Regions from separate parts of the Homo sapiens genome. Here region 1 is linked to region 2. The links come from fine-mapping of genetic effects on gene expression. A gene starts in region 2. The other region holds a variant in brackets. All regions are shown on one strand. Distances are from middle to middle. Region 1 has its middle 5.3 kb from the start of LPCAT3. Region 2 holds the start of EMG1 (EMG1 N1-specific pseudouridine methyltransferase).

Region 1 (2,908 bases), 53 kb before region 2:
CTCTTTTGGTAAGGCTTACCATAAACTCAAAAGAATGCAACCATTTGTCTCTTACCTATCTGTGACCTGGAAGCCCTCTCCCTGCTTTGAGCTATCCCCACGTTTCTGGACAGAACCAATGTACTTCTTATATATATTGGTTCTCATGTCTCCCTAAGATGTATAAAACCAAGCTGTGCCCTGACCACGTTGGGCACATGTCGTCAGGACTTCCTGAGGCTGTGTCACGGGTGCGCATCCTCAACCTTAGCAAAATAAATTTTCTAAATTAACTGAGACCATCTCAGATATGTGGGGTTCACACAGCCATGCCCAGCTGTTTTGTTTTTTTGTTTTTTGAGACGGAGTCTCACTCTGTCGCCCAGGCTGGAGTGCAATGGTGCGATCTCGGCTCACTGCAACCACCGCCTCCCGGATTCAAACAATTCTCCTGCCTCAGCCTCCCAAGTAGCTGGGACTACAGGTGACTGCCATCATGCCCGGCTAGTTTTGTTTTTGTTTTTGTTTTTTTGTATTTTTGTAGAGAAGGGGTTTCACCATGTTGGCCAGGCTGGTCTTGAACTCCTGACCTCAGGTGATCCACCCAACTCGGCCCCCCAAAGTGCCAATTACAGGCATGAGCCACTACACCCAGCCCTGTTTTGTTCTTTTAATTTTTGTAGAGAGAGGGTCTCACTATGCTCCCCAGGCTACTCTTGAACTCATGGCCTCAAGCTATTCTCCAACTGGACTTCACAAAGTGCTGGGATAACAAGCATCACCCTCCATGCCCAGCTACAAATTTATCTCTTACAATAATGGTGAAAGATATGTCTTCCGGATCCTTCCAGTGTGGGTGAATAGTTCTTAAATGACAATTCCTCTAAATTTTCAATCTTCCTAAGCCTTTGAGTATCTTCCTCTACATTAAACCAAGGCAGGTTTGGAATTTCTGATTTACTCATTATGACCCACCTTTGGTCCATGTCTCAGCCAAATAGCTAGACAAATTGTTAGAGCTCTTCCTAACTCTCTGAGCTGCAACATTAAATGTAGAACCTCTATTTAGTAAGCCCATATAAATTTGGCCAGATCTAGTTTTATGTTCCTTCCACCATTATCCCATGCCTTCAATATCCATTCCCATACGTGTTCCCAAAATTTCTGTCTGTATAAATTAGACATCTTAAGCCGTTCTTTTGGAGTGTTGCACACTTCCTCATGGGTCACACTTTGTCCCTCACCTTAGGGGCCTGCTGGGATTTCAGTCTAGTTACAGGTCTAGAAGCAAAGAGGGCAGGTGGGGAAGGGTCCTGAGGAGCATCTGCTTTGTCCTGCATGGCAACTTCCTCAGGGAGGCCATTACAGTTTCGTAGGCAATGCAGGGTTAGTCCTCTCAGGTGGGATGCCTCCACTGGGGATGGGGAGGCCTCTTTCACTAGCAAAGAAGATCAATCAGAATTTAGGGGCTCAATGTCCCCAGCTTCATCAGGTGATGAGGTTCATAAATCTAAAAAAGAGAGCTTTATTTCTCATAAAGGGTTGCAGCCTGCAGGGTGGCCATTCTGAC[G/A]GGAGGGGAAGCACAGCCTCCAGCCACAAACCAGAAACAGATACTTCAAGGGAGGGCCAAAGGGAAGAGAAATTTATGCTGAGTGGGGTGGCCAAATGTACGTATTTAGTACATTATAGGAGTGATGAGTTTTATGAAAGGAGAAACATACTCATGTGCAATTGAGCTTCATGCTTCTCCACGGGCCCCATGTTCAAAAAATGGTGGCATTAAGATGATCTAAGGTAGAGTTTTTGGCCCTCTGGCATCAAAAGGTGAAGCAGAGAACATGAAAACCCTCACTGCATTCTCTGTAGACTGGTCAGAACCACTTCATATTCAAGAGTCTCTTATCAGGCATAAAAGGAGGAGCAATATCAGACAGTTGGTTGATATCACTGGTAGAGTCTTTTGAAAGGGCTAGTTTCTGTTTAGCCCTTAGGTTAGAAAGCCTAAACCGGTTAGGGAGGGAGGGGTGAGCATAAGGAGGCGTGCCTGACCTCATCCCATCATGACCAAGAACTCAGTTTTCAAGGTTACTCTGGGGTCTGCTTTGCCAGGAGAGGGTCCATTAGGTCAGTTAGTGGGGGCTTCGAATTTTACTTTTAGTTTACAAGGGTATAGCCTAGTACTCCTTGGCTAAAAACTTGCACAGCATGTTATTATAATGAATATTGTGAGCAATAATAATACAATTGTAATAACTATTTGTGTGTATCTAAACACATCTAAACATAGAAAAGGTACAGTACAAATATGGTATAAAAGATTAAAAAGGCTGGGCACGGTGGCTCATGCCTATAATCCCAGCACTTTGGGAGACCAAGGCAGGTGGATCACCTGAGGTCGGGAGTTCAAGACAAGCCTGAACAACATGGAGAAACCGTCTCTACTAAAAATACAAAATTAGCCAGGCGTGGTGGCACAGGCCTGTAATCCCAGCTACTTGGGAGGCTGAGGCAGGAGAATCACTTGAACCCGGGAGGTGGAGGTTGCAGTGAGCTGAGATCGTGCCATTGCACTCCAGCCTGGGCAACAAGAGCAAAACTCCATCTCAATAAAAATTTAAAAAAATTTAAAAATTTAAAAATGGTACAGCCGTATAGGCCATTTACCTGAATGGAGCTTGCAGGACTCGCAGTTGTTCTGGGTTAGTCAGTGAGTGTGAAGAGTGTGAGAGTGAATGTGAAGGCCTAGGACACTGCCATACACTACCATATGTAATTGCCCTGTGGGCTTCTTCCTGCCCGCTGCACAGACAAAATCAATTCACTGAGACCATGGCATTGCATTAGAGAAAGATCTTAATTGATGCAAGGCTGACCATGCCACATGGTACATGAAGCTATTACTCAAATCAATCTCCCTGAAAATTTGGAG
Region 2 (2,908 bases):
AGTAATGTCACAGAGAGCACAAAGAACAAATGACCAAGAACTAAGTCCATGAGACACCCTTAGTTATAGAAGAAAAAAACCTTCTTGAATGAATAATACAGTTTCAACCCATTAGTAGGATATAATCATGTTTTCTATTCTTTTAATAGATTACAGGCGCAGGCCTGTAATCCCAGCTACTCTGGAGGCTGAGGCAGGAGAATCGATTGAACCCGGGAGGCGGAGGCTGCAGTGAGCCAAGATCGTGCCACTGCACTCCAGCCTGGTAGAGACTGAGACTCCATCTCAAAAAAAAAAAAAAAAAAAAGTGTATTTAGAACGAAGATTAAAATCCTGGCCTGACTTCTAAACCAATGCGATTTCTTCTGGGCCTATTCAATTAGTTCTAACGGGTAAGAGAAAGGAGGAGGAAGAACACTGCCCAAGGCTTTAAGATAGAGAACTGCTGGTTCTATTACATGTGGGGAAAGAGATGAATGATAGATAAAAATGCAGATGTAAAAGTTTTAAATAATAACCAGGTCTGGACAGTGTATCATAGGTGGATATTAGAGAGAGGTGACTATGGATACTAATGAATTGAAACACGAAGCCCTTACAAAAAGTGTGGGCAGACTAGGCTACATAACTACGTTTCTCATCTGCCCAGTAACTTGTCTTGGGATGTGGAATGACGCAAGGAACGAAACTTTCCTCTGCTTAGACTACTATACCACAGAATCCTGGTAAACCAATTGGAAGCAAGGAGGTGAGGGCTAGAATATCATTCAAAAAGAGCAAAAGAAAATGAGTACTACCGGCCGGGCACAGTGGCTCACGCCTCTAATCCCAACACTTTGGGAGGCCGAGGCGGGCGGATCACTTGAGGTCAGGAGTTCGAGACCAGCGTGGCCAACATGGTGAAACCCCATCTGAACTAAAAATACAAAAAAATTAGCCGGGCGTGGTGGCACCTGCCTGTAGTCCCAGCTACTCCAGAGGCTGAGTCAGGAGAACTGTTTGAAGGCGGGAGGCAGAAGTTGCAGTGAGCCGAGGTCGCGCAACTGCACTCCAGCCTGGGCGACAGAGCGAGACTCCGTCTCAAAAAAAAAAAAAAAAAGAAAGAAAAATGAGTACTACCATCCCAGGATGTCAAATCAACGCAAAGCCAACCAAGCCACCTTCCTTCAAAAGCATCTTTCACCCCTCTCTGCTTTCTACATCCACTCTGGGCCCCTTACCCTCATTCCACGGAGTCCCAACCTATCGATTTACTACTTCTCCACTTCCTGTCCCAAACTACCTTGACTGTCTCCAGACTGGCCCCTTCCAGCACCACAATAAGCCTACGGCCTCCGATCTTGTTTCCTGCCCCTAGTCGGGGCCGCTTGGGTGGCAGAGCATCCCAGTCCTGTGCCTGCTCCCCACCGCTTCGTTCACGAGGCTTGAATCCATCACTGGGCGCGGCCATCTTGCAACAATACCGGAAGTTGCGCTAACGCTCTTAAATAAGAACAGCGCGGCTTCTAATCACAAATTTCCTTCCGGCTGCCATTTTGAAAGTGGGCCAGGAAATGGAGATGACTTGCTGTCTTGCGCTGCCCTCCCTGGGAGGGCAGCCTTCCAGAAAGGGGCGGGACTTCCGTATGCGCGATTCCTGTGCGCGAAGTTCGGGTCCGTAGTGGGCTAAGGGGGAGGGTTTCAAAGGGAGCGCACTTCCGCTGCCCTTTCTTTCGCCAGCCTTACGGGCCCGAACCCTCGTGTGAAGGGTGCAGTACCTAAGCCGGAGCGGGGTAGAGGCGGGCCGGCACCCCCTTCTGACCTCCAGTGCCGCCGGCCTCAAGATCAGACATGGCCCAGAACTTGAAGGACTTGGCGGGACGGCTGCCCGCCGGGCCCCGGGGCATGGGCACGGCCCTGAAGCTGTTGCTGGGGGCCGGCGCCGTGGCCTACGGTGTGCGCGAATCTGTGTTCACCGGTGAGCAACCTCCGCCTGCTCGCCGGACGCTTCCAGTCCCTCCCCCAAACCCCTTGCCCTGTCCCCGCGCCCCTCCACGGGCCTAGCATTTCCTCTGAGCAGCGGCCTGGCCTGATCACCACCCATCTCCCCACAGTGGAAGGCGGGCACAGAGCCATCTTCTTCAATCGGATCGGTGGAGTGCAGCAGGACACTATCCTGGCCGAGGGCCTTCACTTCAGGTAATGGCGGGCAGAGCCTGCTGACCCTGACCTTTCACCCTTGACGCCGACCCAGCAGTGGCTATAGTCGGACGTGCAACAGGATTCAACGCTGCTCTTTTCCCACCCTCCTCATCCCTGCCCCTAGGATAGTGGGTGCTGCGAGAACCTCCAGCAGCATACAAACTGTTGTTTTCCAGAGGGACAAGAGAATCTCTCCTTGTCTGTGGTCGTGGAGAGGAGCAGGCCAAAAAACGCGTGGTGAGGGGAAACCGGGCAAGGCTAGTGAAACTGCGGCCTTTTCTTTTTTTTTTTTTGGAGAGGGAGTCTTGCTCTGTCGCCCAGGCTGGAGTGCAGTGGCGCGATCTCGGCTCACTGCAACCTCCGCCTCCTGATTTCAAGCGATTCTCCTGCCTCAGCCTCACGAGTAGCTGGGATTACAGGCGCCCGCCACCACGCCCGGCTAATTTTTGTATTTTAGTAGAGACGGGGTTTCACTATGTAGATCAAGCTGGTCTCGAACTCCTGACCTCAAATGATCCGCCCGCCTCGGCCTCCCAAAGTGCTGGGATTACAGGCGTGAGCCACCGCGCCCGGCCGAAACTGTGGCCTCTTAATACCTATCCCTGTCCTCTCCAGGATCCCTTGGTTCCAGTACCCCATTATCTATGACATTCGGGCCAGACCTCGAAAAATCTCCTCCCCTACAGGCTCCAAAGGTAGGTCTGAGCACTTGGTAATCACATGGCAG

Evidence for each region. PIP is the estimated chance that this variant, and not a neighbour inherited with it, causes the effect.
Region 1: its variant is the best candidate, but not a certain one, in a credible set for the expression of EMG1 in lymphoblastoid cells (GEUVADIS, PIP 0.77).

What each region holds. Positions count from the first base shown.
Region 1 is chr12:7,022,352-7,025,259 of GRCh38, reverse strand. No RefSeq gene overlaps it. Among named protein-coding and RNA genes, the nearest start is that of LPCAT3, 5.3 kb to the right of the region's middle. The variant G/A (reference allele first, on the strand shown) is at 1,550.
Region 2 is chr12:6,969,466-6,972,373 of GRCh38, reverse strand. EMG1 (EMG1 N1-specific pseudouridine methyltransferase) reads right to left here and starts at 1,461. Exons shown (of 6, transcript NM_006331.8): 1 at 1,283-1,461. The coding sequence starts at 1,450. PHB2 (prohibitin 2) reads left to right here and starts at 1,710. Exons shown (of 10, transcript NM_001144831.2): 1 at 1,710-1,957; 2 at 2,094-2,178; 3 at 2,797-2,876. The coding sequence starts at 1,831. RefSeq lists enhancers at 1,154-1,273, 1,324-1,503, 1,594-1,663, 1,184-1,786.